Linked DNA regions of Homo sapiens. The protein of the gene in region 3 purifies or fractionates together with the protein of the main gene of each other region. This does not show direct contact. Each region holds a gene or a part of one and is shown on either strand. Other genes may lie near its edges.

Region 1 (7,439 bases), on a different chromosome or scaffold from region 3:
TTTTCTTTTTTTTTTTGAGATGAAGTCTCACTCTGCCACCCAGGCTGGAGTGCAGTGGTGTGATCTTGGCCCATGGCCCACTGCAACCTCTACCGCCTGGGTTCAGGCGATTCTGCTGCCTCAGCCTCCCGAGTACTGGGATTACAGGTGCCCGCCACCGCACCCTGCTAATTTTTGCATTTTTAGTAGAGACGGGGTTTCACCATCTTGGTCAGGCTGGTCTTGAATTCTTCACCTCGTGATCCACCCGCCTCTGCCTCCCAAAGTGCAGGGATTACAGGTGTGAGCCACCGCGCCCAGCCTGTTTTTTTTTTTTTCTTTTTATGAGAGGGAAGCTCACTCAGTGGCCCAGGCTGGAGTGCAGTGGCGCGATCTCAGCTCACAGCAACCTCCGCCGCCAGGGCTCAAACGATCCTCCCACCTCAGCCTTCCACATAGCTGAACCACAGGCGCCCGACACCACAAGCAGCTACTTTTAAAATTTTTTGTAGAAATGGGGTTTGGCTATGTTGCTTAGGCTGGTCTCGAATTTCTGAGCTTAGGCAATTCGCCCACCTCGGCCTCCCAAAGTGCTGGGATTGCAGGCGTGGGCCACAGTGCCTGGCCTGTTGTTTTGTTTATCTGGGAACTGCCTCAACTTTTTTTTTTTTTTTTTTTTTTTGGACACAGGGTCTCACCCCGAGTGCAGTGGTACAATCAAAGCTCACTGCAGGCCGGGCGTGGTGGCTCACATCTGTAATCCCAGCACTTTGGGAGGCCGAGGCGGGCAGATCACCTGAGGTCAACCAGCCTGACCAACATGGTGAAACCCTGTCTCTACCTAAAACAAAAAAGTAGCCGGGCATGGTGGCAGGTGCCTGTAATCCCAGCTACTCAGGAGGCTGAGGCAGGAGAATTATTTGAAACCAGGAGATGGAGGTTGCAGCCTGACCAACAGGAAGAAACCCCGTCTCTACTAAAAATACAAAATTAGCCGGGCGTGGTGGCGCATGCCTGTAATCCCAGCTACTCGGGAGGCTGAGGCAGGAGAATCACTTGAACCCAGGAGGTGGAGGATGCCGTGAGCCAAGATCCCGTCATTGCACCAGCCTGGGCAACAAGAGCAAAACTCCGTCTTAAAAAAAAAAAAAAAAAATCCCTCACTGCAGCCTCAACCTCCCAGGCTCAAGCAATCCTCCCACCTCCACCTCCCAAGTAGTTGGGACTACAAGTGCACACCATCACGCCTGCCTCATTGTTTTTTATTTTTTTTTTGAGATGGAGTCTCACTCTGTCACCCAGGCTGGAGTGCAGTGGCGCCATCTCGGCTCACTGCAAGCTCCACCTCCCGGGTTCACGCCATTCTCCTGCCTCAGCCTCCCAAGTAGCTGGGTTACAGGTGCCCGCCACCACGCCCGGCTAATTTTTTTGTGTTTCTTAGTAGACACGGGGTTTCACCGTGTTGGCCAGGATGGTCTCGATCTCCTGACCTTGTGATCCGCCCGCCTCAGCCTCCCAAAGTGCTGGGATTACAGGCGTGAGCCTGCACGCCTGCCTGATTGTTTTGTATTTTTTGTAGAGATGAGGTCTTGCTATGTTGCCCAGGCTGATCTCAAACTCCCTGATAAACAAGGCTGTGGGTACCTGCTTCCTGGGGCTCTTTGCTTTGTGTTCTTTCTAGTCGGGAGCTGGGAAGAGCCACAGCTTCCAGCTTTGTCAGAGTGTCATCTCACAAACTGATCTTCCCAAAACTTCTGTCTCCCAAAGTGCCGGGATGACAGGCGTGAACCGCTGCACCTGGCCTGCCCCAGTGTGGTAGAATACACACCACATAAAATGGACGATCTTCACTATTTTTAAATCCACTGCTGTCTTTATTCCTGGCTGTTGATCTTAGGAAAACACCAAGAAGCTGGTACTTGATTTGCTAAAAAAGTCACAGACACAGCTTTACTTAATCCTCTAGAGAGGCTGGGCGTGGTGGCTCATGCCTGTAATCCCAGCACTTTGGGAGGCCGAGGTGGCTGGATCATGAGGTCAGGAGATCGAGACCATCCTGGCTAACACGGTGAAACCCCGTCTCTAGTAAAAAATATAAAAAATTAGCCGGGCGTGGTGGCAGGCGCCTGTAGTCCCCCGCCACTCGGGAGGCTGAGGCAGGAGAATGGCATGAACCCGGGAGGCGGAGCTTGGAGTGAGCCGAGATGTGCCACTGTCCTCCAGCCTGGGCGACAAAGCAAGATACCGTCTCAGAAAAAAAAAAAAACCCCTCTAGAGAATCCCAGAAAATAGAAGGAATTATTCCATTTCCCGGAAGAGGAACGTGTGGCTAAGAGAGGAGGCATCACCTGCCCAGGTGTGTCCAGCCGGGGTCCTCACTGTCTCAGGGACCTCAGTGCTCCGGACACCTGTGTCCACAAGCCAGAGACAGGATCAGAGGCGCCCTGGGTGGGATTGCCTGGGACAGTGTGCATGAAGGTGACAGTGCTGTACCTGGTACACAGCAGGTGCTTAATAAATGTTCATCCACCTCTGAGACTCTGAGGCATTGCCCTCTCACTGTTCTTTGTGATCTCACCGTAGTGCCTCTCACCTACCCGACAACAGTGCCGGCTCTTTCTTGATCCCCAAGGGCACAGCAGGGGCTCAGTATGAATGAATGAATGAACCAACGAATGTGCACCTGCACCTGCCTCCCTAGGGCTGTGAGTGGCACAAGGACAGCTCTGGTTCATCTCACACCTCCAGCACCTGGTCAGGTCTGAGATCACGTCTGCTAAATAAATGAGGTCCCACAACTCCCCCATTCCTTGTTCATTTCCTGAGTACCCGTTTACTGAGCGGGGCACATTGACTCTGAAGAAGAAAGCTTTGGCCCTTTCAGTGCCAGACTAGAAAAGAAACAAAGCAGCTGGGCATGGTGGCTCATGCCTGTAATCCCAGCACTTTGGGAGGCTGAGGCAGGCGGATCACAAGGTCAGGAATTCGAGACCAGCCTGGCCAACATAGTGAAACCCCGTCTCTACTAAAAATACAAAAATTAGCCGGGCATGGTGGCACCCGCCTATAGTCTTGGGAGGCTGAGGCAGGAGAATCGCTTGAACCCAGGAGGCGGAGGCTGCAGTGAGCCAAGATCGCATCATTGCACTCCAGCCTGGGTGACAGAGCAAGACTCCATCTCAAAAAAAAGGTCTTGCTCTGTCATCCAGGTTAGAGTGCAGTGGCACAAATACGGCTCACTGCAGCCTTGAACTCTCGGGCTCAAGTGATCCTCTTGCCTCAGCCTCCTGAGTAGCTGGGACTGTAGGCACATGCCAGGATGCCCGGCTAATTTTTTTTTTTTTTTAATCTTTGGTACACACAAGGTCTCACTATGCTTCCTAGGCTGGTCTCTAACTCCTGAGCTCAAGCAATCCTAAGAGAAGAGATTTTAAATGTGGTCACCACAAAAACAGGTAAGTATTTGAGGTAATGCATATGTTAATTAGCTTGATTTAGCCATTCTACAATGTATACAATGTACATCATGCTGTACATAATATATACAAGTATACATGTCAACTAAACAATAAATAATTTTAGTGTATTCTTGAGTCTATTTAAAGATGAACAAGAATAGAAAAGCTAGAGGATGGTCCCAGTTTTACATAAAAATATATAAATACACACACAAACCTATTATAAACAAGACTAGAAAGATCCATAAAAGTGATTCTCCTGGGGCTGGTGCAGATCAAAGTTGTTTAGTTCTGTCTTCTTTTTTATTGAGACAGAGTCTCACTCTGTCACCCAGGCTGGAGTGCACTGGCACAATCTCAGCTCACTGCAACCTCCGCCTCCTGGGTTCAAGCAATTCTCCTGCCTCAGCACCCTGAGTAGCTGAGATTACAGGTGTGCACCACCACGCCTGGCTAATTTTTGTATTTTTAGTAGAGACAGGGTTTCACCATGTTGGCCAGGCTGGTCTCGAACTCCTGACCTCAAGGGATCCACCTGCCTCAGCCTCCCAAAGTGCTGGGATTAACAGGCGTGAGCCACTGTGCCCAGCCAGTTCTGTCTTCTTTACATTGCAGTATTTTATAAATGTCCCATAACAAACACATATTTCTTTAACCATGGTGGGGAAGGCACTTGATCAATAAATGCTTAATAAGGTCAGGTGCGGTGGCTCACGCCTGTAATCCCAGCACTGTGGGAAGCTGACCTGGGTGGATCACTTGAGCCCAGGAGTTGGAGACCAGCCTGAGCAACATGGTGAAACCCCAGCTCTAAAAACAAAACAAAACAATAAAACAATAATTAGCTGTGTGTGGTGGCGTATGCCTGTACTCCCAGCTACTTGGGAGGCTGAAGTGGGAGGATCCCTTGAGCCCAGCAGGTTGAGACTGCAGTGAGCCATGACTGCACCACTGCACTCTAGCCTGGGTGACAGAGATGGATCCTGTCTCAAACAAACTAATTATTCAGGTAGGGCACGGTGGCTCACACCTGTAATCCCAGCACTTTGGGAGGCCAAGGGAAGCAGATCACCTGAGGTCAGGAGTTCGAGACCAGCCTGACCAACATGGTGAAACCCTGTCTCTACCTAAAACACAAAAAATTAGCCAGGCACGGTGGCGGGTGCCTGTAATCCCAGCTACTCAGGAGGCTGAAGCAGGAGAATCATTTGAAATCGGGAGACGGAGGTTGCAGTGAGGCAAGATCACACCACTGCACTCCAGCCTGGGCAACAGAGCGAGACCCCATCTGTCTCAAAACAAACAAACAAAACAAAGTCAGCCGGGCGCAGTGGCCCACGCCTGTAATCCCAGCACTCTGGGAGGCTGAGGCAGGAGAATCACCTGAGGTCAGGAGTTCCAGACCAGCCTGGCCAACGTGGTGAAACCCCGTCTCTACTAAAAATACAAAAATTAGCAGGGTATGGTAGCAGGCATCTTAATCCCAGCTACTCAGGAGGCTGAGGTCCGCGCTTGAACCCAGGAGGCAGAGGTTACAGTGAGCCGAGATCGCGCCATTGCACTCAGCCTGGCCGACAGAGTGAGACTCCCTCTCAAAATAACAGTAGTAATAAATAAATAAAGTCGTTGCTTGCAGGCTGTACAAAAAAAGGCAGCAACTGGACTTGGCCCCTAACTCATAGTTTGCCAAAACTCTGCTCTAAAGTTTGCTTGCTTCATTCACTTCTCAGAGCCTGGCCCTGGGAGCCGCCTATCCCAGTCCTCATCCCACATGGCCAGCGTTCTCCTACCTTCAATGATCTTTGCTGCAAACTCTCGGATAGACTTGAGGGAAGCCAAGTCCAGGTGCCGGGCGTTGACATGGTGATTGAGGGTCTCCCCGCGGATGTCCTTTGCTGCCGCCTCACACTTCTCCATGTCTCGGCAGGCCAGGATGATGTTGCCTCCTGAAAACCCAGGATGGAAAAAGATTTAAATTAATAATCCACTCCTGGGTACTGACCCCAGAGACATGAAAACATACGTCTACACAAAAACACATCCACCAATGTTCACTGCGGCATTCTTCACAAAAGCCAAAAGGTAGAAACAACCAAATGCCCATCTGTGGATGAAGGGACAACAAAATGTGGTCCATCCATAGAGATGGAATATTAGACGGCCGTGAAAAGGAGTGAAGCACTGGCTCATGCTACAGCAAGGATGACCGTCAGAAACACTGTGCTCGGGGAAAGAAACCAGACACGAAAGACCACACAGCGTACAATCCCATTTACATGAATTCTATGTATATGATTTCACACCTATGAAACGCCCAGAATAGGCAAATCCATAGAGAAAGAAAATAGATTCTTGGTTTTCTAGGGCAGGGGGTGGGGAGAGGGAATTACAGCTTGATAGTTACAGTGAGCAGGTTTCTTTCTAGGGTAACAGATGTTCTAAGATTGATTTTAAAGATGGTTGCATCATTCTGTGACTATACTAAACATCACTGAATTGGTCGGGCACGGTGGCTCACACCTGTAATTCCAGCACTTTGGGAGGCCAAGGCAAGAGGATTCCCCATCCTCTCCTTTTTTTTTTTTTTTTAGATGGAGTCTCACTCTGTCACCCAGGCTGGAGTGCGGTGGCGCAATCTCGGCTCACTGCAACCTCCACCTCCTGGGTTCAAGCAATTCTCCTGCCTCAGCCTCCCGAGTAGCTGGGATTACAGGCACCTACCACAACTAGCTAATTTTTTATTTTTTTATTTTTAGTAGAGACAGCGGTTTCACCATGTTAGCCAAGCTAGTCTTGAACTTCTGACCTCAGGTGATCCACCCCGCGGCCTCCCAAAGTACTGGGATTACAAATAAGCCACAATGCCCAGCCTCCAATTTTTTTTGTTGTGGTAAAATACAAATCACTTAAAATTTATCATCTTAACCCCCTTTTCTTTTTGTTTATTATTATTTTTTTTTTTTTGAGTCAGTCTCACTCTGCTGCCGCGGCTGGAGTGCTGGCGCCATCACAGCTCATTCAGCCTTGAACTCCTAGGCTCAAGTGACCTGGGACTATAGGTACCACCTGTGCCAGCATGCCTGGCTAACTCTGGTAGAGATGGGGGTGTTGCTATGGTGTCCAGGCTGGTCTGGAACCCCTGGCCTCAAGTGATCCTCCTGCCTCAGCCTCCAAAAGTGCTGGAATTATAGATGTGAGCCACCGAGACCCGCCCTCTTAGCCATTTTTAAGTGTCCAGTTCATTGGTATTAAAAACATTTATGGCTGGGCCGGGCATGGTGGCTCACACCTGTAATCCCAGCACTTTGGGAGACCAAGGCAGGTGGATCACCTGAGGTCAGGAGTTCAAGACCAGCCTGGCCAACACATTACAAACTTAGCTGGGTGTGGTGTTGCATGCCTGTAATCCCAGCTACTCGGGTGGCTGAGGCAGGAGAATTGCTTGAACCCGGGAGGCGAAGGTTGCAGTGAGCCAAGATCATGCCACTGCACTCCAGCCTGGGCGACAAGAGCAAAACTCCATCTCAAAAAAAAAAAAACAATAATAATAATTCCTAATGTTGTGCAACCATTACAACCATCCATCTCTCAAATTGTTTCATCTTGCCAAACTAAACTTCCGTTTCCATTAAACAGTAACTCCCCATTCTCCCCTCCCCTCCTGACCCCTGGCAAGCACCATTCCAACTTCTCTATGAATTTAACTGTAGGTAGCTCCTGTAAGTGGAATCATACCGTATTTGCTCTTCTGTCGACTGGCTTATTTCACTTCATGGAATGTCCTCAAGGTTCATCTGTTTCAATGCCCTTTTTTTTGTTTTGCTTTGTTTTGTTTTGTTTTTGAGTCTCACTCTGTCACCCAGGCTGGAGTGCCGTGGCGCCATCTCTGCTCACTGCAACCCCTGCCTCTCAGGTTCAAGCGATTCTCCTGCTTCAGCCTCCCAAGCAGCTGGGACTACAGGTGCCCACCACAACTCCTGGCTAATTTTTGTATTTTTAGTA
Region 2 (6,684 bases), on a different chromosome or scaffold from region 3:
ATGTTCTCTCCATGTGTGCACAATGGGGGCCTCCAGTACAGGCTCTGGCACATGAAAAAATGCTCAATAAATGCTCACTTTATGAAAAAGTGAATCAGTCAATGTACAGACCAATTCTCTCATAAGTAGAATAGTTGACAGACCACCTAAATTCTATGGACCTCCCTTACACATGAATAAGAAGAGCTTATTATCTATCCCTACAATGACAGATACCAATCCAACCACCTGTTCATGGAGAATGTTCAGTTCATAAGTGGATCTTCATCATCTCACAAACTGACCTTTGAGGACCAAGACAATTAACATCATTCCAGCCCCATCTTTTGGGTGATTTACGAAAATTTAGCACAACGCAGCGCTCATTGGGATCACTGGGCTCACGTGGATGCCAGAATCTGAAAGCGACAAAAAGGATGAGGGCATTTCTTCAAACAGAGCTTTGAAAAGGGTTAGAGACAGGGGTGAGGAGCGAGGGATGAATTTCATGGAACATAGGGTCAGATATGCCCAAATCCACCTTTCTGCTACTCATCATGCAGCTTCTCCTCCATCTGCATTTCCGGCATTTCCTTTGAAAACTGTGCCTATGTCACTCAATGTTCTCTACCTTACTGCTTTGAATATCCTCACCATAGATTTTCTAGAGGTTCTCTTCTATTTGTCCATCCTTATGTCCTGTTCCTATGGGTCCATCAACCTATAGGGTGTCCTTGTATGATGAAAAGATTTTACCCTGGTCCCACTTATCAATAGAGTTTTTTCCTTTTTTTAATGCACTGTTTTTAAAGTCTAGAGAACTAGTAAAATCTTTTGAATCTTCTACTTATCCTTGTTATTGGACAAGTAATTTAACTTCCCTGATTCTCAGTTTTTCTATCTAAAAAATAAGGACTAGAGTAATATCACTATTTATTTCATACAGTGGATATGAAGATCGAAGGTGGTAATCCAGTAAAGTATGTATTTTATGTAATTTATGTAATATATGTAAAGTATGTAATTTATGCAATTAAAGAATTACATAAATATGAGATATAAGATTATCAGAATTTAGCATTTTTGCTTCATAAGAAGCATTACATCTTCAGCCTGACTGGGTGTGGTGGCACATACTTGTCATCCTAGCAACTCAGAAGACTTGGGTGGGAGGATCAGTTGAGCCCAGGAATTCAAGGCTGCAGTGAGCCATGATTGCACCACTGCACTCCAGCCTGGTTGACAGAGTAAGACCCTGTCTCAAAAAAGAAAAAAAAAGCATTATTAAATCTTAATAATTGGTTATGATCTTAATCAACATGGGTTTTCACTATGTAGAGACAGGTAAATATACGGGTTAAAAGCACAGTAAGATCCACCTGATTTGAGAACAATTGTTGACACCACTGGGTGACCTTAGCTGAATTATCTACACTCTCCAAGCTCAATTTCCTCATATCTACAGTGGGAAAAATAACAATGTGTGCCTCATAGGGTTCTTGCGCAGATTAAATGAGATAATGAAATTATTTAACCTAGTACCCAAGAGCTAAAAGAAGAGTGAGCTATTTTACTTTTATAGCTGATAGCTAGAATACCCTAAGCTCTCTGCATGATCCAGGACCCAAGATTCTTTTATCTCATTCTATACTCACGTGGAACTTTCATTGTATGGTGTCTGATCAACCCATTGCCAATGTCGCTGACCTTCTGGATCTGAGAGCCCCACAAAATAAGCAGATTCTTCTTGCAGATTCTGGAAGATGAAATCCTGAGGGGGGAAAAGAAGGAGTCACAGCCTTTACAGTATTCAGCTTAAACTGAATTCTTAATACCTTAGAGAAACAAGAAGAAAAGGAGAGGATCCAGCAACAGCTGCATTAGAGCTCTACGTAGGAATGGGGATCTCTGGCTGAGCAGGGCAGAATCAAAGACATCGCTTGTAAGCATGATGTTCAGTACATACGGAAGGAATTTTTTTTTTTTTTTTTTTTTGAGATGGAGTCTCACTTTCTGTCCCAGGCTGGAGTGCAGTGGTGCAATCTTGGCTCACTGCACCTCTGCCTCCCAGGCTTAAGCGATTCTCATGCCTCAGCCTCCCCAGTAGCTGGGACTACAGGTGTGTGCCACCATGCCTGGCTAATTTTTGTATTTTTAGTAGAGGCTGGGTTTCACCATTTTGGCCAAGCTGGTCTTGAACTCCCGGCCTCAAGTGATCCGCCCGCCTTGGCCTCCCAAAGTGCTGGGATTACAGGCATGAGCTAGCATGCCCAGCCAGTATGGAAGCAATTTCTATGATCAGAATGAATTCTCATCTCAGGTTTACTTCCCCTCTTTTCTTCACTAAGGGATTACATTCTTCAAAGTTGTACATGAGAAAATTTTGGCAGATTCAGTCATTTTCCTTTCATAACTTCAGGGATTCTTTATTTTCATTCCTGAGTGTTGATTGTGATTCATCATGAGTTAACTTTATTTCTTTTCTCTATTCAACTTAATACCTCTTCTTTGTTAAGTAGTTAATCATGTATAAAACATTTACATATTGAAATAACAAATTGATATTTCAGACTGAAACATTTTCATCCTTCCATTCAACCCTCATATATTTTTAATGTCACAATTTCTTCCGGGGAGGTTAGTTTTACTGAAGCAGGAAGGAGGTATGGAATATAAAGGCTTAGGAGCCCTTTCTACCTATTTTATTGAAAGCCTTCTGCCACAGCGCAAATATCCCAAAGTAACAAAAACCTCCTTCTTAGCCAAGAGAGATATACAAAGATCAGGCAGGGCTCACAGCCCCATTATCTATTAGAAAGTACCTGCTCTTCTTGAGTGTTTATCACCAGCAGGTGAGCCTCCATTCTAGCACAGTCCTTCTCACTGTCTTGCCAAGATGCTGATTCAGTAGAAATAAAGTAGCAGTTGGAACTAAATGACTTCCAATTCTTTGGGCAACAGCTCCAGGCTGTCTCTGTATTGGGAAGAGGGGCACATACGTGCAATATAAATAATCACTCTTAAAAGTGTGTGTATTATTAAAATTAAGAGCCAAGAGAGAGCACATGGAAGCTGGAACTCCCCTCCACACTCAGATGCAACCAGGAGCCCCTGCCCCTCAGGTGTCAAGGAAGCCAAGTCTACCTCAATCAGGCAGTAATGAGGCAGGGCCCCTTTTCTCCTGCTGAAGTGCCATCTGAAAAGCCCAGCTATTACGAAAACATGTTTAAATAAGATCCAGACTCTGAGAATATAATGCAAAAATATCCAGAGTTCAATAGAAAATAAGTCATTATGCTAAGAACCAGTAAGTTTTCAAATTTAATAAAATATAATAATCAATAGATGCCTACAATCAAGACAACAAAAATGGGGCCGGGCACGGTGGCTCACATCTGTAATCCCAGCACTTTGGGAGGCTGAGGCAGAAGAATCGCTTGATCCCAGAAGTTCAAGACCAGCCTGGGCAACACAGCGAGAACCTGTCTCAAAAAAAAAAAAAAAAAAAAAAGATAATAAAATTGTTAGAATTATCTGACAAAGATTTAAAAGCAGCCATGATTAAAAAAAAACAAAAAACAAAAACGCTTCAACAAGAAGATACAGACATGCTTGAAACAAATGAAAAACTAGAAAGTTTCAGCAAAGAACTAGAAGATATAAAGAAAAACCAAGATTTCACCATGCTTGGGGCGCCTTCCTTCCCCATGGCGGGACACCTGGCTTCGGATTTCGCCTTCTCACCCCCTCCAGGCGGTGGAGGTGATGGGCCAGGGGGGCCGGAGCCGGGCTGGGTTGATCCTCGGACCTGGCTAAGCTTCCAAGGCCCTCCTGGAGGGCCAGGAATCGGGCCGGGGTTTGGGCCAGGCTCTGAGGAGTGGGGGATTCCCCCATGTCCCCCGCCGTATGAGTTCTGCGGGGGGATGGCGTACTGTGGGCCTCAGACTGGAGTGGGGCTAGTGCCCCAAGACGGCTTGGAGACCTCTCAGCCTGAGGGCGAAGCAGGAGTCGGGGTGGAGAGCAACTCCGATGGGGCCTCCCCGGAGCCCTGCACCGTCCCCTCTGGTGCCGTGAAGCTGGAGAAGGAGAAGCTGGAGCAAAACCCGGAGGAGTCCCAGGACATCAAAGCTCTGCAGAAAGAACTCGAGCAATTTGCCAAGCTCCTGAAGCAGAAGAGGATCACCCTGGGATATACACAGGCCGATGTGGCTCACCCTGGGGGTTCTATTTGGGAAGGTGTTCAGCCAAACGACCATCTGCCGCTTTGAGGCTCTGCAGCTTAGCTTCAAGAACATGTGTGAGCTGCGGCCCTTGCTGCAGAAGTGGGTGGAGGAAGCTGACAACAATGAAAATCTTCAGGAGATATGCAAAGCAGAAACCCTCGTGCAGGCCCGAAAGAGAAAGCGAACCAGTATCGAGAACCAAGTGAGAGGCAACCTGGAGAATTTGTTCCTGCGGTGCCCGAAACCCACACTGCAGCAGATCAGCCACATCGCCCAGCAGCTTGGGCTGGAGAAGGATGTGGTCCGAGTGTGGTTCTGTAACCGGCGCCAGAAGGGCAAGCGATCAAGCAGTGGCTATGCACAACGAGAGGATTTTGAGGCTGTTGGGTCTCCTTTCTCAGGGGGACCAGTGTCCTTTCCTCTGGCCCCAGGGCCCCATTTTGGTACCCCAGGCTATGGGAGCCCTCACTTCACTGCACTGTACTCCTCGGTCCCTTTCCCTGAGGGGGAAGCCTTTCCCCCTGTCTCCGTCACCACTCTGGGCTCTCCCATGCATTCAAACTGAGGTGCCTGCCCTTCTAGGAATGGGGGACAGGGGGAGGGGAGGAGCTAGGGAAAGAGCACCTGGAGTTTGTGCCAGGGCTTTTGGGATTAAGTTCTTCATTCACTAAGGAAGGAATTGGGAACACAAAGGGTGGGGGCAGGGGAGTTTGGGGCAACTGGTTGGAGGGAAGGTGAAGTTCAATGATGTTCTTGATTTTAATCCCACATCATGTATCACTTTTTTCTTAAATAAAGAAGCCTCAACACAGTAGATAGACAAAAAAAAAAAAAATGGAAATTTTATAATTGAATAATATAATAACCAAAATAAAAAGCTCAGTGGATGGACTCAGCAGAATGAAGGGGATAGAGAGATTAGTGAATTGGAAGACAAAACAACAGAAAATGTCAACTGAGCAACAGAAACAAACTAGACAGAAAAGGCTGGGCACAGTGGCTCACGCCTGTAAACCCAGCACTTTAGGAGGCTGAGGCGGGCGGATCACCTGTGGTCGGGAGTTCTAGACCAGCCTGGCCAACATGGCGAAACCCTGTCTCTACTAAAAATACCAAAAAAAGGCTGGGCGTGGTGGCTCACACCTGTAATCCCTGCACTTTGGGAGGCCGAGGTGGATGGATCACCTGAGATGAGAAGTTTGAGACCAGCCTGACCAACATGGTGAAACCCCATATCTACTAAAAATACAAAAATTAGCAGGGCATGGTGGCGCACACCTGTAATCCCAGCTACTCAGGAGGCTGAGGCAAGAGAATCGCTTGAACCCAGGAGGCAGAGGTTGCAGTGAGCTGAGATCGCACCACTGCACTCCAGCCTGGGCAACAGAGCGAGACTTCGTCTGAAAAACAAAAACAAAAAAAAAACAAAAACAAACAAAAAAACCCACAAAGAAACAAAAAAACTAGACAGAAAAAAAAATAAACAGAGCCTTGTAAAGTGACCCCAAATGTGTATACACCAAACAAAGCTGCAAAATGTATAAAGCAAAACTGATACAATTGAAAGAGGAATTGACAAATATACAATTATAGGTGGATACATCAACACCTCTCTCTCAACCATTGACAGAACTACACAGAAAATCAGCAAGAACATAGAACTTATAAACATCATCAATTACAAGGATCCAATCCACATTTATAGAACGCTCCACCCAACAACAGAATACCCATTCTTTTCCAGTGCCTCTGGAACATATGCTGAAACAAACCATATCTCGGGACATTAAATAACATCGACTAATTTAAAATTGCTGAAATCATATCGTTTTCTCCAACCACAGTGAAAAGAAACCAGAAATTAATAAAAGAAATAACACAGGAAAATCTCCATACGCTTGAAACTAAACAACACACTTTTAAATAATCCACGAGTCAAAGGAGATGTCTAAAGGGAAATTTTTAAAAATACATTGAACTGAATGAAAATGACAATACAAATTATCAAATTTCATAGGACACTATTCTCCAATCAAAGGAACTAGGGCTCCTCAAAGAAATATCTGATTCCAGGATAGGGACATGAAATGTACAATGTGAGTCTCAAGCATTTTGCAGTCCCAGAAAGTGAGGAAGTGCTAAACCAAAACAAAAGAAAAAACACGTGGTGATATGTTAAAGGGTCACAGGAGTCAAATGAAAAAGTTCCCAATGTCCAAAGCTGGAACTACAAAATAGAGCAGTATTGGATTATAAACCAAAATTTAAAATAAATATCCATGAGTTGGACACACAGTGGGGAACAACACACACTGGGGCCTGTGGTGGAGGGAGCAAGCCGGGGAGGGAGAGCATCAGGAAGAACAGCTAATGGATGCTGGGCTTAATACCTGGGTGATGGGTTGGTCTATGTAGCAAACCACCATAGCACACATTTACCCATGAAACAAACCTGCACATCCTGCACATGTACCCCAGAACT
Region 3 (8,160 bases):
CCGTCTCAAAATAAAATAAAATAAAATAAAATATATCTATAGACAAGACAAGGAATTCTTAGCTATGGTTGTAAAAATAAAATGTAAGAGTAGAAGTTCAACTGAGAGAGGTTGGAAAGTGTTAAGAGAGAAACAGATATAAAAAGAAGAATAAGAATGCTATTCTTTTCTTCATACAAAAATCTAATGAAACTGTTGTTACTGGAACAATAAAGAAAGGTTTCAGATTGACCAGAGAAGTACCCAAAAATAGTAATATAGATACCTCTGAAAAACAAAAGATTGAAGTTGTTTTAAGTGTGCTAGTTACTCAGCAATCATGATAGGAAATTAATTGTCTAAAGTTTGTGAAAGTTACTACATTAGTTTGTGATGGCTGCTGTAACAAATACCACAGACTGGGTGGCTTAAACAACAGACATTTCTTTCCTCCCAGTTCTGAAATCTAGAAGTCCAAGATCAAAGTGTTGGCAGGGTTGGTTTCATTTGGAGGCCTCTCTCTTTGGCTTGTAGATGGCTATCTTCTTCTAGTGTCTTCACATAATCATCCCTCTGTGTGTTTACATGTCTGACATCTCTTTCTCTATGTTCTAATCTCCTCATCTTATAAGTACAGCAGTTATATTGGATTAAGTTCTGCCCTAAGGACCCATTTTAATGTGATTACCTGTTTTTAGGGGCCTATCTTTAAACATAGTCACATTCTGAGGTAGTGGGAGTTAGGGTTTCAACATATGAATTTGAGGGGGATATAGGAACACAGTTCAGCTCATAATGGTTACAAACATATTCCTTAGTGATAAGCAAGTAAATATAAGAGCTTTAAAAACTGTATAAAGTGCTTGCCAATGGGATAAAATGAAAAACAGACAATACCAGTTTGTTGGCAGAAATGTGGAAAAATTTGTACATCCAGACACTGGGAATAGCAATGTAAATTAGTACAACCACTGGAAGACTATTGGGAAATGTCTGCTAAAAGTCAACGTGTACTTGCAAGATGGGCAACAATTCCACTCCTAGGCATATACCCAACAAAACTGCATATACAGGTTGGCAAAAGGCATGTTAAAAGAATGTTTATAGCAGTATAATTCATAACAGCCAAACTTTGCCCCATCCCAAATACTGATCTAAAGGATAGATAATAAACTGTGGTATATTCATACAGTGGAATATTATACAGCAATGAGAATGAAAGGACTAAACTTAAAAGCTGTATTATGGATAAATTTCATAAACATAATGCTGAGTGAAAAAAGCCAGACACAAGCAGTTCATACTTTATTACTCCATTTATATAAATTCAGAAGAGGCAAAATTAAACTATGGTATTGGAAGTCAGCATATTTGCTATACTTGGGGTAGTAGTGATTGTAAGGAGTAATTTGTGTGGCACCTGGGGTGCCAGTGATGTTTCATTTTCTCTTCAAGCTGCTGGTAATAAATATGTTACTTTGTGAATATATATTGAGTTGAACATAAAGGATTTGTTCATTTTTCTTCATGTAAGTAATAATTCAATTAAACTGTTTTTAAAAAGTTTGCTAATAGGACTCAGGGCTGCAAAAAAGAGTAAATAGAAGATTGTTTCCTTTTACATATTTTTTCACATATTTCATTTGTTAGCATATGTATGTATTTGTCTTTGTTTTAAACAATTAAAATATGATGATGTGAAACATTTTTAATTTTTGCATTTTAGCATCAAATATATAATACTTAAGAGTGTGATGAAATAGAATGGGCAGAATATATAGAAAATAAAATTAATACTTGATTTTATTAAGGTGGTTTATCACAACAAATACCAACAAGAAGAGAAAAAAATCTCAGGAAAATCAACAGCATGCATGGATTTGGAATGACACTATGTAAATAAATGCAATGAAATAAAATTGACTTTTCAACACTTGGACAGCATGAAGTTCAACAGACAAATCCATTAAAAAGGGAAATAAAAGCTCAATCTCAAGGTGAAATTTTTGTCCATGACACTCTCGAATTCTAGATCTGAAAAAGTTTGGGATAAATGGCAGAAAACAACGCGTCATCACGAGATCTCTAATTTAATCCAAAGCTATTCCGGAAGGCAGCAGTTTTCCCTATTTCTTCACCAGCGCCCTGGGGCAAAAGGTTAGGAATAATCGGCTTCAGGAACTTGAACTCGCCGGCCCCTGAGTCTCCGGTCAAACACACCTCGTAGTGGTAGCTCTGGGATAGGGTCCCGGTGCCGCTCACGTCCACCAGATGCCCTGGAAAGGGGCCCTCGGGCACCGAGCAGCGACCGACCGGGGCCGCCCTGCTCCTCCTGCACAGCCGCACTGCCACGAACAGGAGCACCGAAAAGAGGAAGAGCGACGACACCGAGGCCAATGCCACCACCAGGTAGACAGTGAGCGAGTCGGCCTGGGCCTGGGCCGGGGCCGCCTCCGGCAGCGGCAGGTAGGGCTGGGAGAAGCCGTCCACCAGGAGCACGTGCAGCGTGGCGGTGGCCGAGCGCGGAGGCTCGCCATTGTCCTTGACCAGCACCACCAGCCTGTGCTTGGCCGCGTCGCGCTCGCTCAGCAGCCTGGCGGTGCGCACCTCGCCATTGTGCGCCCACATGCTGAACAGCCCGGGCTCCGTGGCCTTGAGCAGCTGGTACGACAGCCAGGCGTTCTGGCCCGAGTCACCGTCCACCGCCACCACCTTGGTCACCAGGTAGCCCGGCTCGGCCGCCCGGGGCACCAGCTCGGTGCAAGGCGCCGAGCCGTTCTGCAGCGGATACAGCACGAAGGGCGAGTTGTCGTTGGCGTCCAGCACCAGCACGCGCACCAGCGCCTCGCTGCTCAGCGCCGGGGAGCCGCGGTCTGTGGCTCCCACGCGGAACTCGAACGCCTGCAGGGCCTCGTAGTCCAGCGACCTGAGGGCAAACAGGTGGCCGTTGTCCGCGTTGATGGAGACCAGGGAGGCGAGGCGCAGGTGTGGGTTCTGGGGCGGCAGCAGCGAGTAGGTGACCTGGGCGTTGGTGCCTGAGTCTCTGTCTGTGGCGCTGACACTGCCGATGTGCAGGGCGGGGCTGTTGTTCTCTCGGACGAACAGGGTGTAGGAGGTTTGGGTGAAGGCGGGGGCGTTGTCATTGACGTCGGAGACCAGGACCGTTATGTTGTGCTCGGTTTTCAGCCTGGGTGTCCCCATGTCGGTGACAGTGATGGTGATGTTGTACTCGGCTTGGCTCTCTCTGTCCAGTGTTCTCTGTGTCACTAGGGTGTAAAAGTTTTTTAATGTGGGCTTCAAAAGAAAGGGGAGATCATTCTGGATGGAGCAAATCATCCTACCGTTGTCCCCGGAGTCTGGATCAGAAACACTGAAAACGGCAACTACAGTTTCCGGGGCATTTTCTGGGGTAGGGCTGGAGAGCGTAGACATGGTGAGTTCAGGGGCGTTGTCATTCACATCCACCACTTCTATAGCCACAGTGCATTTTCCTGAAAGGCCCCCACCATCTGTGGCTACAATTTCCACGTTATAATATGGAGTTGCCTCGAAATCCAATGCCCTTTTCAGGCGAATTTCTGCTGTTTTCTCGTCTATTACAAATGGTTGAGTAACTTCATCGCCTTGGAATAGAGCATAGGCTACACTCCCATATGCTCCTGCATCTAAATCTCGAGCGGAGACAACGACAACTAAGGAGTTAAGGGGGCTGTTCTCGGGCACCTGTACCTCATAGAATGATTGTAAAAATTCGGGGGCGTTGTCATTATTATCCAAGACGACAATGCGAATTGTGGTGGTCCCGGACCTGGGCGGAGCCCCACCGTCCAGTGCAGTGAGTGTTAAGCTGAGCTCAGGCCGCTCCTCCCGGTCCAGCGCTTTGTCCAGCACCAGCTCTGGGTATTTTCTGCCATCTCCGCGATTATGCGTAGCAACATGAAAGTGTGAATTTGGGCTGATTGTGTAGTTCTGAACAGTGTTGCTACCTATGTCAAAGTCCTGGGCTATTTTTAAGGGAAACACAGTCCCTGGCTGGGTGCTCTCTGGGATTTTTAGGAGCATTTCCTTCTCTGGGAACTCTGGGGCATGGTCATTTATATCTGTGAGCTGCAGATCAGTTTGAAAAAACTGCACTGGATTTTCTAGTAAGAGCTGGAAATGCAATATACAGGGTTCTGTCGCCCCGCACATCACCTCCCGGTCTAGTTTTTCATATAGAAGCAAATTGCCGGTCTTTATATCAAGCTGCAAGAGCTCTTTGTTTCCTTTGTAATGCATTCGCGCGCCCCGAGTGGCCAGTTCCCCCACCCCAAGACCCAGGTCTTTTGCCAGGTTGGCCACAGAATAGCCACTTTCTGTTTCTTCTGGTATGGAATACCTAACTGCCTCAGAGCCAGCCTCCCACAAAAGCAACAATATAGCAAGAAACATAACTTGCCTTTTCTGTGGCGTTTTTGCTAGCGCAGTCTCCATTGTTCAGACCCGGTCCAGAAGGCGCAGTTTAACTCCGTACACAATCCACCCAGATGATTTGCATAAATAACCGCGAATCCGATCTTTCTTGACTGATTTCCACAAGAACGAAGCCCACCCTGAAGATCTAGCCACTAGATCTTACCTAAAATGCGTCCTTCTTTTAGAGTTTGGATTCCCCAGCTTAATGGCGTCTGAGTTATCCGCAGAGCCCACTATCCACACTCTTAGCCTGCAGCGCCACCAGGCGTCCTAATTTACTATTGCATATAGTATTTGCCATTTCATCCTAAATTCTAACTGACGTGTATCCATACCCTTTTGTCACATAAGCTCTCCCGATGGTATCTCCAGCTCTTAGTTGCTGAAAGTTCTAAATAAATGTTGTGGAGTTAATTTTCAGTGAGAAAATACTTTTGAGAAAAAAACTAAAATTATATATTAATCTCCATAAAAGTACCCTTGAGTACACAAATACACTTTGTTTGGTGTTTCTTATTTGATTATATTAAATAAGTGATCAGGAATATCTATAGAAATTTAAAGTTTAAGAAAAATTACTTTCACTTTGAAGTAAACACCAATAACACCCAGAAAATGGCACAAATCATAGGTGTATAACTCAATGAATTTTCGCAAAGTGAACACACTCCTGTAAGTAGAACCTAGATTAAAAATACTACCCAAACCCAAGTCCCCACCTGCTATTGTCTGGTTACCACCCTCTCCCCAAAAGATAAGCACTGTCCTGACTTCTGTTGTCATAGGTTTTTTTTGCTTTTTTTTTTTTTAACTTTATACAAATGGAGTTATAGATTGTTACTCTCGTGTGTCTGGCTTCTTCTCCTCAATATTATGTTCAGCAAATTGATCTGTGGCATCTTGTTCTTATTTGTTTTATTCTCATTGCTTTATATCATTCTGTTGTATGAATATACTATGATTTATTTATTCATTCTCCAGTTGATGAACATTGTTTTCCAGGTTTAAGCTCTTTGGGGTAGTACTGGTATAAACATCCTTGTACTAGTCTTTTGGTGACCACATATATGTGTTTATGTTGAATATATTCAAAGGAGTTGGATTGCTATGCATTAAGATGTGCACATATATTTTGCTTTAGCAGATAATGAGAAAGTTTTCTCAAGTAGTCGTACTAATACCAGCAAAGTATGAGAGTTCCAGTTGCTCCACATTCTTGTCAACATTTGATGCTATCTTTTCCATTTTAAACCACTCTGGTTAGTGTATGGTGATATGATATTGTAATTTTAGTTAGCATTTTCCCTGATGATTAAACAATTTGAGCACATTTTCATGTTTATCAGCCATTAGGATACAATCTTGTGAAGGGCTTATGCAAACCTTTTTACTTTTTTGGGGGGAGGCATTTGCCTGTTTGCTTATTGATCTGCAGAAGTTTCTCATATATTCTGGGCATAAGTCCTTTTTAAGATATATGTATTGCAAATATCTTTTCCCACTCTATGGTTTTTATTTCAAGTCTATTATGTGTCTTTGATGAATAAAATTTCTTACCTTTAGTCAGATTTGTCAATAAGTTTCATGTATGATTAGCATTTTTTTGTGTTCTATTTAAATGTTCACATACTCCAAGGTCATGAAAATATTCTTGTATGATGTATTTTGAAAGATTAATTATTCCATTTTTCATATTTAAAGCTATAATCAACCTGAAATTAACTTTTCAAGTGAATGAGTTTGGAGTCAAAAGGTTTAAAATGTAAGTATCTGAATGCTTTAAACCTTTGCACCATCTATTTAAAAGACAATCCATTTTCCATTGTTTTTGAAATGTCATCTTTGTTATAAATTAGGTAACCATAGCTCTGAAGATGTTTTATTCAATCTTGTTTATCCTACAATAACTCATTGTGTTAATTATTATAGCTTTATCATGAGTTTTGTTATCTGAGAAGTAAGTTCTCCAGTTTTTTAAAAGTAGACTAAATTTTTAGAATGGTTTTTGGTTCACAGCAAAAATGAGAGTAAAGTACAGAGATTTCATATATGCCCCTGTCCCCACACAAGCACAGCCTCACCCATTATCAACATCCTCCACCAGAGTGGTTCATTTGCTACAGCTGATGAATCTACATTGGCACGTCATTATAACCTGGAGTCCATAGTTTACATTAGGGCCCATTCTTGGTGCTGTATATTCTATGGCTTTGGACAAATTTAAAATTATGTGTATTCACCTTTATAATATCATACAAAGTAGTTTCACTGCTCTAAAAATCCCCTGTGCTCCACTTATTTATACCTCCCTCCCTCCCCTAGAACCCAATGCAAGTGGATTTTTTTACTGTCTCCACAGTTTTGCTTTTTCTAGAGCACCATGTAGTTGAAATCACACAGTATGTAGTCTTTTCAGATTGGCTTCTTTCACTTAGTAATATCCATTTAGATTTCCTCAATGTCTTTTCATGGGTTGTTAGGTCATTTCTTTTTGATGCTGAATAGTATTCTATGGGTTGAATGAACTGCAGTTTGTTTATCTATTCACCTACTAAACGACATCTTGGTTGCTTCCACGTTTTGGCAATTATGAATGAACTGCTATAAACGTCTCTGTGCAAGTTTTTGTGTGAACATAAATTTTCAACTCCTTTGGGCAAATACTAAGGAACATGAGTGCTAGATAACATGGTAAGAGTATATTTTGTTTTGTATCAAACTGCCAAACTGTCTTCCAAAGTGTCTGTACCATTTTGCATTCCCACCAGCAATGAATGAGAGCTCCTTTTGCTCTCATTACCAGCATTTGGCACTGTCAGTGTCCTGAAGTTTGGTCATTCTAATAGGTGTGTAGTCATATTTCACTGTTATTTTAATTTGCATTTCCCTGTTAACATATGATATGGAGCATCTTTTCATATGTTTATTTGCCACCTGTATACCTTCTTTGGTGGGTGTCTCTTAAGGTCTTTGCCTTATTTTTAAATTGGGTTCTTGTTGCTGAGTTTTAGTCGTTCTTTGTATATTTTGAATAACAGTCCTTTATCAGATATGCCTTTTGCAAATATTTTCTCCTAGTTTATGTCTTGTCTTTTCATTCTCTTCATAGTATCTTTTGCAGAGCAGAAAGTTTTAATTTTAATGAAGTCCAGCTTATTAACTCTTTATTCTGCGGATTGTGACTTTGGTGTGGTATCTCTAGTTTGGTTCCTTTTCATCAGGGTTCCTTTGGTTATTACTGTTTTTGTATTTTCAAATAAACTTAATGCTCGGCTCATTAATTTTCACAAAGAAAGCTGCTGGAATTTTGTTTAAGATTTTATTGAATCTATAGATTGACTAAGAGATAACTGACATATTCCCAACATTGAGTCTTCCAATTAGTGAACATTGTATATTCCTGTAATTATTTAGATCTTCTTTAATTTTTCTCATATTTTAGTTTTCAATGTAGAAGTCTTATACATATTCAACTAGATTTGTTTATAAATAGCTGCTATTTTTGAAATTATTGTGCATAATGTTTAAATTTTTCACTTTTTTTGTTGCTAAATAGAAATAGAACTCATGTTTGTATGTTGACCTTGTATCCAGTGGCATTGTTAACTTCATTTATTAATTCCAGTAGCCTGTAGATTCTTCATGGCTTGCAAGGTATACAAGTATGTCCACTTAAAAAGACATTTTTATTTCTTCCCTTCGAATCATAGTGCCTTTTATTCCTTC
Region 4 (7,439 bases), about 95 Mb from region 3:
ACTTTTAAAAAATACTATTTAAACAAAGAATGACTATTCTATAGGAAAAATAAGGAACAGTTGTTCTCCCTTTAAAAACTAATCAAATAGGCCAGGCACGGTGGCTCACGCCTGTAAACCCAGCACTTTGGTAGGCCAAGGTGGGTGGATTGCTTGAGGTCAGGAGCTCAAGACCAGCCTGACCAACATGGTAAAACCCCATCTCTACTGAAAATACAAAAACTAGCTAGGTGTGGTTGGTGCATGCCTGTAATTCCAGTTACTCTGGAAGCTGAGGAAAGAGAATTGCTTGAACCCAGGAGGCGGAGGTTGCAGTGAGCCGTGATCATGCCACTGCACTCCACCCTGTGTAACAAAGCAAGACTCTGTCTCAAAAAACAAATAAACAAAAAACTAATCAAGTAACTTTCTATATTCATTTTTTCAGTCTCTGCTCATGTTCCTCAAACAACCTAGGTAGTGTAAATTTTAATAAGGTGCATTGTCTTTTTAATAAAATAAGGCTAAAACATTCTGCAAGGGTATAAGTGACAACTGCTCTAGAAATGATATCACAAAGATTTCTTTTAATTCTGTCAAATTTATAGATTTCTCAAATTCTTTTACGTTCCTAACTAGAAATAATTATATTTCTAAATAACAATTTTTAGACTGTTAAACATGACAATAAAAAAGAAAAGGAAAGATTTATCAGGTTATAACTCATCTTATTTGCCTCATATGTAATACTTAACTGATTTGAAATAACATCCCAAATGGTTTAACTATGCCATTTTCTGATGAAAAGAAAGATGAACAGAAAGTAGCACATGCAACCCAATGAATGCCATTATAATTTTCCCTAAAAGCTATTTCCAAATGTTCAATACGGTAGCATTCTATACCAACTAAAGAGATTAAACTGGAAAATTTTGCAGAAACAGGATATATTAAAAGTTTTCCGTCCGGAAGCAGTGTCTCATGCCTGTAACGTCAGCACTTTAGGAGGCCGAGCCGGGCGGATCACCCAAGGTCAGGAATTTGAGATCAGCCTGACCAACATGGAGAAACCCATCTCTAACAAAAATACAAAATTAGCTGGGCGTGGTGGCACATGCCTGTAATCCCAGCTACTTGGGAGGCTGAGGCAGGAGAATCGCTTAAACACAGGAGGCAGAGGTTGCGGTGAGCCAACATCGTGCCATTGCACTCCAGCCTGGGCAAAAAGAACGAAACTCCATCTCAAAAAAAAAAAAAAGTTTTCCAGTGCTAACTGCCTCATGACTAGACCAATTTCACACAGCATATATAAAATATGGCATTGCACATCAGGGCTTCTGCTGCCAGGGATTGCATGAAGGTAAAAAGGAAATAGCAGCACACCATTTACATGGCCATTCCTTCATATATTTTTTTCTTCAGAAATTATGGAAACGGTTAGAGTATGTACTTAGAGAATATTTAATTTTTCAAACAACTAACATGCCTTAATTCTGTTTTAATTTTACACTCATACAAATAACTAACTCTTAAATAGCATTAAATGCAGAGCATAACTTCTAAGCACTACATATATAGAAATGTTTATATAGCATATACAGTATATATACACACTATATATACTATATACCCCATGAATTTTACATATATATATATTTTTTTCTATTATAATTGAGAAAATTAAGGTCCAGTTACTAAGGTGGTGAAGCTCAGATTCTGACCCAAACAGTTCCTAATATTGTTACCTCAAAATAATATATGCCCAGTCTTTTTTTTTTTTAAGCAAAACAGCATCAAGGATTATAAGGAGAACATATAAGCCTCTCCCTTTTCCTTTTACCCTACATATCACTTTCCAAATTCAACCACCATAATTGTTTCTTTTAGTGTTTAGTTCATATTTCAAAGACAAATTAATTTATCAATTTTAAATACTATTCATTAGCTGCCAACTGTGGAACACAAGGACTTAGCTTTCTGACATCACCCAAACCACATTTACGTTTCTCCTGCCCTCCCACCAACCTAGAATAATTGCACCACAATCTTTATTTAAAACAGTCAACTTGTTTACATTATTATGACCAAATAACCATTAGGTACTGTTGAACCAAGCAAGGAACTGTGATTCTTTTCCCTTTTTTAGACACCTTTAGATCATTCTGGAGTTAATAAAGTTCTTTTGTTTATTTACTTGTCTCCAATGTACTCTACAAAATATGAAAGTCATCAATATATTGTTCCAAATGATCTCTGGAACACCTAGTAACATTATTTATCAAATGCTGATATCCATCTATTTGTTTTTCCTACCCTGAAGGCCTTCCTCCAGAACGCTTTGCTTTACCGCCCCAGTCTGGACTGGTTTCTTTCAAGGCTAGCTATTTTGGAGTACTCCTGGGACTTCAGGTTTCTCTGTGTTAGAGCCCATTTCCTAGCTTCTATGTCTTCATGTTGTTTGGTGTAATTTCTTGTTTTGCAGGAACATGTCATCTAATAACTTTCTAAGAAAGGGTACATGGGTAGTTAATACTAGAGTTCTTAATTTCTGAATATCTTTATTTAAATTTTGTATTATGGCAAGGTATGGATTTCTTATGGAGATTACTTTCTCTCAGAATTTTGCAGACTTTGTTACATCGTCATTTACCTTAAAGTATTATTCCCACTTCTTGATATGTAACTTTTTCTTTGAAAAGTCTTAGTCATTTGTTTGTTTGTTGCTTATTCAATGGTGTTGTAAAGCTTCTGTGTAATGATCCTTGGACAGTCTTTTTCTTTCATGATGCTAAGTATTCCATAAGTTCCTCAGAACAGACATTTCAGTTGCTGCTATCTGGAAAATTTTATCAAAAATGTCTCTATTAATTCCATATGTCCATTTTCACTTTTTTATCATTCTAGAATACCTTATGGTAGATTTTGACCTTATAAATTAGTTATTGGTTTTGCTATATTTTCTTATATTTCCTATTCCCTTTTGTCTTTTTGTTCTAATTCTAACGGGCTTCCTAGACTTTATCTGCTAACACATTTCATCCAAGAGCTGTTTTTTAAATTTCTTACTATTTTTTTCATAGCAACGTGTTCTTATTGTGCAGATAAAATATTTATGAAGATATCATTTGTGGAGTATTTTTTATAATACTGTCATTTCTCCTTATGCCATCCCTCTGGACCTTCTTTGGCTGTTTGATTTAGTCTTTCTCTGCTTGATTTAGTCTTCCCTCATGAGACTTTTCTCAAATGTCTGGTTATCTTTTGCTTTCAGTTCCATATTAACCAATGCCATACCAAAAATATAATCACAGCCTCAATGTACACATGCGGGAATTTTTGCAGAGTGATTAGGCAATAAACATGATTTTTTATCTGAAGACTTTGAAATGTCTCCCTTTGGAGGTATTTTCTCCAGTTTCCCGACTGAGAAAAATTGGCCTGGCTCCAAGCATCCTAATGTGAGCACAGGGAGTTCTGTATTCACTAAGGAAACCCTTATTTAATTCTGTTTTCAGTCTGGCTTTCCTGGAACTATTTCATAACTGGCATTTCCAAGTCCTGAATTCTTCTGGATTTCAATGGGTGAAGGATTGTGGAAGTGGAATAATTTGTCCATTAACTTCCTATTTTACAAATGTTCTTGAGATCTATATTCTCTGATGTCTCCTCTTTCTTCTACTTACCAATGTGTCTGTGCTTTTTCATATTATTTTGGAGTGACTTCAAGAGGGAGGAAGTATAAATGATTAGGTTCAATCCATCACGTTTCCCAGAAGGTTTGGAGAATTATTTATACTGGCAGCCTTGTTTCTTATTATGTAAAAGAGTTGAAGTGACAAAATTAATATTCACAAGAACTGAATTCCTGGCCCAGTTCTTACTATCTATCTATGTCACCATGTTCACGCTACATAACTTCTCTGCAGTTTCATTTATTCATCTGTGTATTGGGCAGGGAAATGTAATAGTTGGGGCACATACTTGCAGGTGCCAGTGGGAAGGAGATGCCAGGTATTACTGTAGGAAAAAATAAGAGCTTTCATTGCTTTCATCTGAATTTATTAACTCTAAGATTAAATGTTCTCATGACCTGCTTGGAGAATAATTCTTTGTCCATTCAGTCAATAAATATTTATTACAGGTCTGTTATGATGACCTAGAAATTTCACTCCAAAGAGAAATGAAAACATCTCTGTGCAAAAACTTGTACGAGAATATTCATATCAGCAGTATTTACAATAACCAAAAAGCAGAAACAACTCAGATGTCCATCAACTGATAAATGAATAAATTAAAGGTAGTATATCCATAAAATGGAATGTTATTCAGCAAGGAAATGAATAAAGTACTGACACAGGTAACAGCATGAATGAACCTTGAAAAAACATTATGCTAAGTGAAAGAAGCCAATAAAAAATACTATATATTGCATGACTTCACTGATATAAAATATTCAGAATAAGCAAAAATCTACAGAGACAGAGAGAGGATTAGTGGTTGCTTAAGGCTGAGCGGGAGGGCGGGAGAGGAGAGAAAGTGAGTGCTAATGCATATGGGGTTTCTCCTTAGGATGACAAAATATTCTAAAATTGATTGTGGTGATGGCTGCATAACTGTGAACTTACTAGAAAATATTGAATTGCTTACTTTAAATGGGTGAATTGTATGGTATATGAATTTTGTCTCAAAAAAGCTGTTAAAAATAAACCATATCTGTATGTAATAATTAGGTGATGGGATGATCTGTGCAGCAAACTACCATGGCACATGTTTACCTATTTAACAAACCTGCACATCCCACACATTTACCCCTGAAGTTAAAATAAAAGTTGAAGAAAAAAAAATGAAGCCTCTAAGAAAGTTTGGCAAGAAAAGTCTATTATGTGCATTTTTACAACATTGGGAATGTAAAACTGAGTAAGATTCATAAGGTAGCATGGTTTAAATTCCAGGGAAAGGACACATATAAAAATAATTATAAATTCTGCTGAACAGAAAGCCTAGATAGAAAAATAAGTGTGTGCACAATGATTAAATGGAAATCTAAAAGATGAGTAGAAACTAGTTATGTGGAGTGATAAAAAGTGAAAAGAGTATTTCAAGCTTGGGGGTAATGTCACATTAAAATCTTAGTTGCAGGAGAGAACTCAGGTTGTTCTAGGAGCTAAAAATTTACCCAAGTGGCTGGAACACAGAGCTGGAATGAGTGGCATGTAATGAGGCTGCATATATCGGCTGAAATTATGCAGGGTCTTGAAGCTCATAGAAAGTTTGTCCAATGTAGTCTAACAGTAATGGGAAGTTACTAAAGGTTTTAAAGAGCATAACAATATTATTAGATTTGCTTTTTAAAGATCACTCTTGTCACTCTATGTTGAATGAAATGGAGGACAGGTTACATTTTCTGTCCTAAAACAGCCTGTAAATATCATAACAGGAATGTCAACCTTGGAGAACCTACGTTATTCGTGTCATTTTAAGAAATCTGTAAACTGGAGGCAGTATTAATTGGTCAAATCAATATGTATAGAATCTCTAGAATGTTCATAGGCAGTCATTCCATTCCCTGAACTTTAGCCAAAACAATGAAGAGTAAGGTGCGAAGATGTTTGTTGCAGCACTTTTTAAAAAATACTGAATAACTGTATACAACAAAGCTGATAGTCTAAAATTTATAAATATTTACTAACTTTGTATGTATGTAAAATTAGCCTTATGTTTTTAGAGTTACAGCTAGTGACCTGAAAATAAAATTAGGTTTATATAAATAAAATTATAAGTTGTAAATTTAAAGCATGAGTAATGTTGCTTCCTTGCTTTAACTGCGTGGTCAACTATTAGACAAAATAGAAAAATACTATGAGAAAACTAACTAACATAACTTGAAAGAGTCATGAAATCAATCTTATCAAAGTTGGGTGAAATGTGTCAGATAAACACTCAACTCAAAAATAATCAACTTCTATATATATTCTTTACTTCTATATATATTCTTCTACAAAGTCCCTTGAATAGTTTCTGTAGCACATATATACAAATAGAATTAACAGAGCCATGAAGGTTTATTTTGCAAAAACATAAAATTCCAGGATGCACCAGGAATCCTGATTTTTTTTTCCTGTAAAACTAATGGTAAGTTGTACATCCAGATGCCTTCACAAAGAAAATTATTTTTAGAAGAAAAGTACTTAGAGAAAATATAATTTTCATAGTGCATGCAGACTTTTTTCTTTATTATCACTATTTCTACAACTAAAATATATAGTGTCAGCCTAATTCATAGTTTGTTACTCCTTTACACAAAATGATAAAATGAAAATTTGTCACAGACCCTGCAAATGCTCAGTACTCTTCATGTAGTGCTAATGATCTGCAATAATTTGCACTGTACTTACAAGAGACTCTATTTGAAAGTTCTTTTCCGGAGCCCAATTGTTGTTTCTAAATAATGAAGTGAATTATCTGCTAAACACAAGAATTATATTCAGAATGATAAGATTATCACCTGAAAATCATACTAAATGCATTCTGCTGGTTTCCTGCTCACTATAGGACATAGGTGCATTGAGTATAATAATGCAGAATTACAAATACTATTTATCTTGCTTTGTGGTGGTGATGTTGTTTTGGTTTGTGGTTTTTGATCAAGCAGATATAGTTGAATATAATTTTCTTAAATGAACCTATGATACAAATAATAAGTAATATATCTTTCCAGTGCATTTAAATTTCTTTCATTATTCAACAGGCACGTTCATAAACCCAAGTCCACATAATTAAATATGATTAGTAAAGTGTACCTCTTTACTGATTCTCAATTTATAATCATACCCCGAAGGAGGTTTAAAGGGAAAGTTGCTCAGAAAAAAATGAAAACTATCTTATAATATTTTAATAGTATAAATCATAATATCTACTAAATGCAACAGTGAAACATTTGCTAAAATTTAAAGTTGCATAACTTACATGTATACTAAGAAAAAGTAACTAAATAAATTCACACGTTTAAATCTTTGAAGAAATTTCATGTTGTGTCTAACAGTTGCTAGAGCCACTAAGAAAAATGTAATTGAACTTAAAGCACAAAAAGGTTCACCTAACATAGAAAAAAAATAAATTCTTATGGTTAATTTTGGCTATGTTGATATGAAAAGCAAATAAAATAAGCATTGCTGGCAGATACAGAGTGTGTTCAGCACAAAGATAACATAACAGTAGGCTAATTCGTCTTTAAACCCTAGAAGGTTGAATTGTTTTCTTGTGAGAAGCTCCTGGAAGCAAATGTTCTCTCTATTATGAACTGTATAATATGGGTGAAGCCTCCCTTCCCTAATGAACACATCAGTGATCTCTGATATCAGTACAGTTGTGGCTGCAATTCAAAGCAGAGATGGAAGAACGGATGTGACGGTATCTTCAGGAAGTAACTCCCATCTCTAGAGTCCTTGAGTACTTACAAC

Evidence for each region.
Region 1: the proteins of PCDHB5 (region 3) and RDH13 purify together in Homo sapiens (affinity purification with mass spectrometry; 2 studies listed by BioGRID and IntAct, with this or other methods). This does not show direct contact.
Region 2: the proteins of PCDHB5 (region 3) and CLEC4A purify together in Homo sapiens (co-immunoprecipitation; one large-scale study listed by IntAct). This does not show direct contact.
Region 4: the proteins of PCDHB5 (region 3) and HCN1 purify together in Homo sapiens (co-immunoprecipitation; one large-scale study listed by IntAct). This does not show direct contact.

Annotation. Positions count from the first base shown.
Region 1 is NC_000019.10:55,051,426-55,058,864, forward strand, and holds part of RDH13 (retinol dehydrogenase 13 isoform 1 precursor), read right to left. Parts: intron 5,384-7,439; coding exon 5,228-5,383; intron 1-5,227. UniProt on the Homo sapiens protein: Retinol dehydrogenase with a clear preference for NADP. Oxidizes all-trans-retinol, but seems to reduce all-trans-retinal with much higher efficiency. Has no activity toward steroids.
Region 2 is NC_000012.12:8,131,854-8,138,537, reverse strand, and holds part of CLEC4A (C-type lectin domain family 4 member A), read right to left. Parts: intron 4,770-6,684; exon of another isoform or gene 3,686-4,769; intron 2,954-3,685; coding exon 2,802-2,953; intron 1,751-2,801; coding exon 1,635-1,750; intron 399-1,634; coding exon 251-398; 3' UTR 1-250. UniProt on the Homo sapiens protein: C-type lectin receptor that binds carbohydrates mannose and fucose but also weakly interacts with N-acetylglucosamine (GlcNAc) in a Ca(2+)-dependent manner. Involved in regulating immune reactivity.
Region 3 is NC_000005.10:141,131,727-141,139,886, reverse strand, and holds PCDHB5 (protocadherin beta-5 precursor), read right to left. Parts: upstream 4,682-8,160; 5' UTR 4,453-4,681; coding exon 2,065-4,452; 3' UTR 1,272-2,064; downstream 1-1,271. UniProt on the Homo sapiens protein: Potential calcium-dependent cell-adhesion protein. May be involved in the establishment and maintenance of specific neuronal connections in the brain.
Region 4 is NC_000005.10:45,684,490-45,691,928, forward strand, and holds part of HCN1 (potassium/sodium hyperpolarization-activated cyclic nucleotide-gated channel 1), read right to left. Parts: intron 1-7,439. UniProt on the Homo sapiens protein: Hyperpolarization-activated ion channel that are permeable to sodium and potassium ions. Displays lower selectivity for K(+) over Na(+) ions.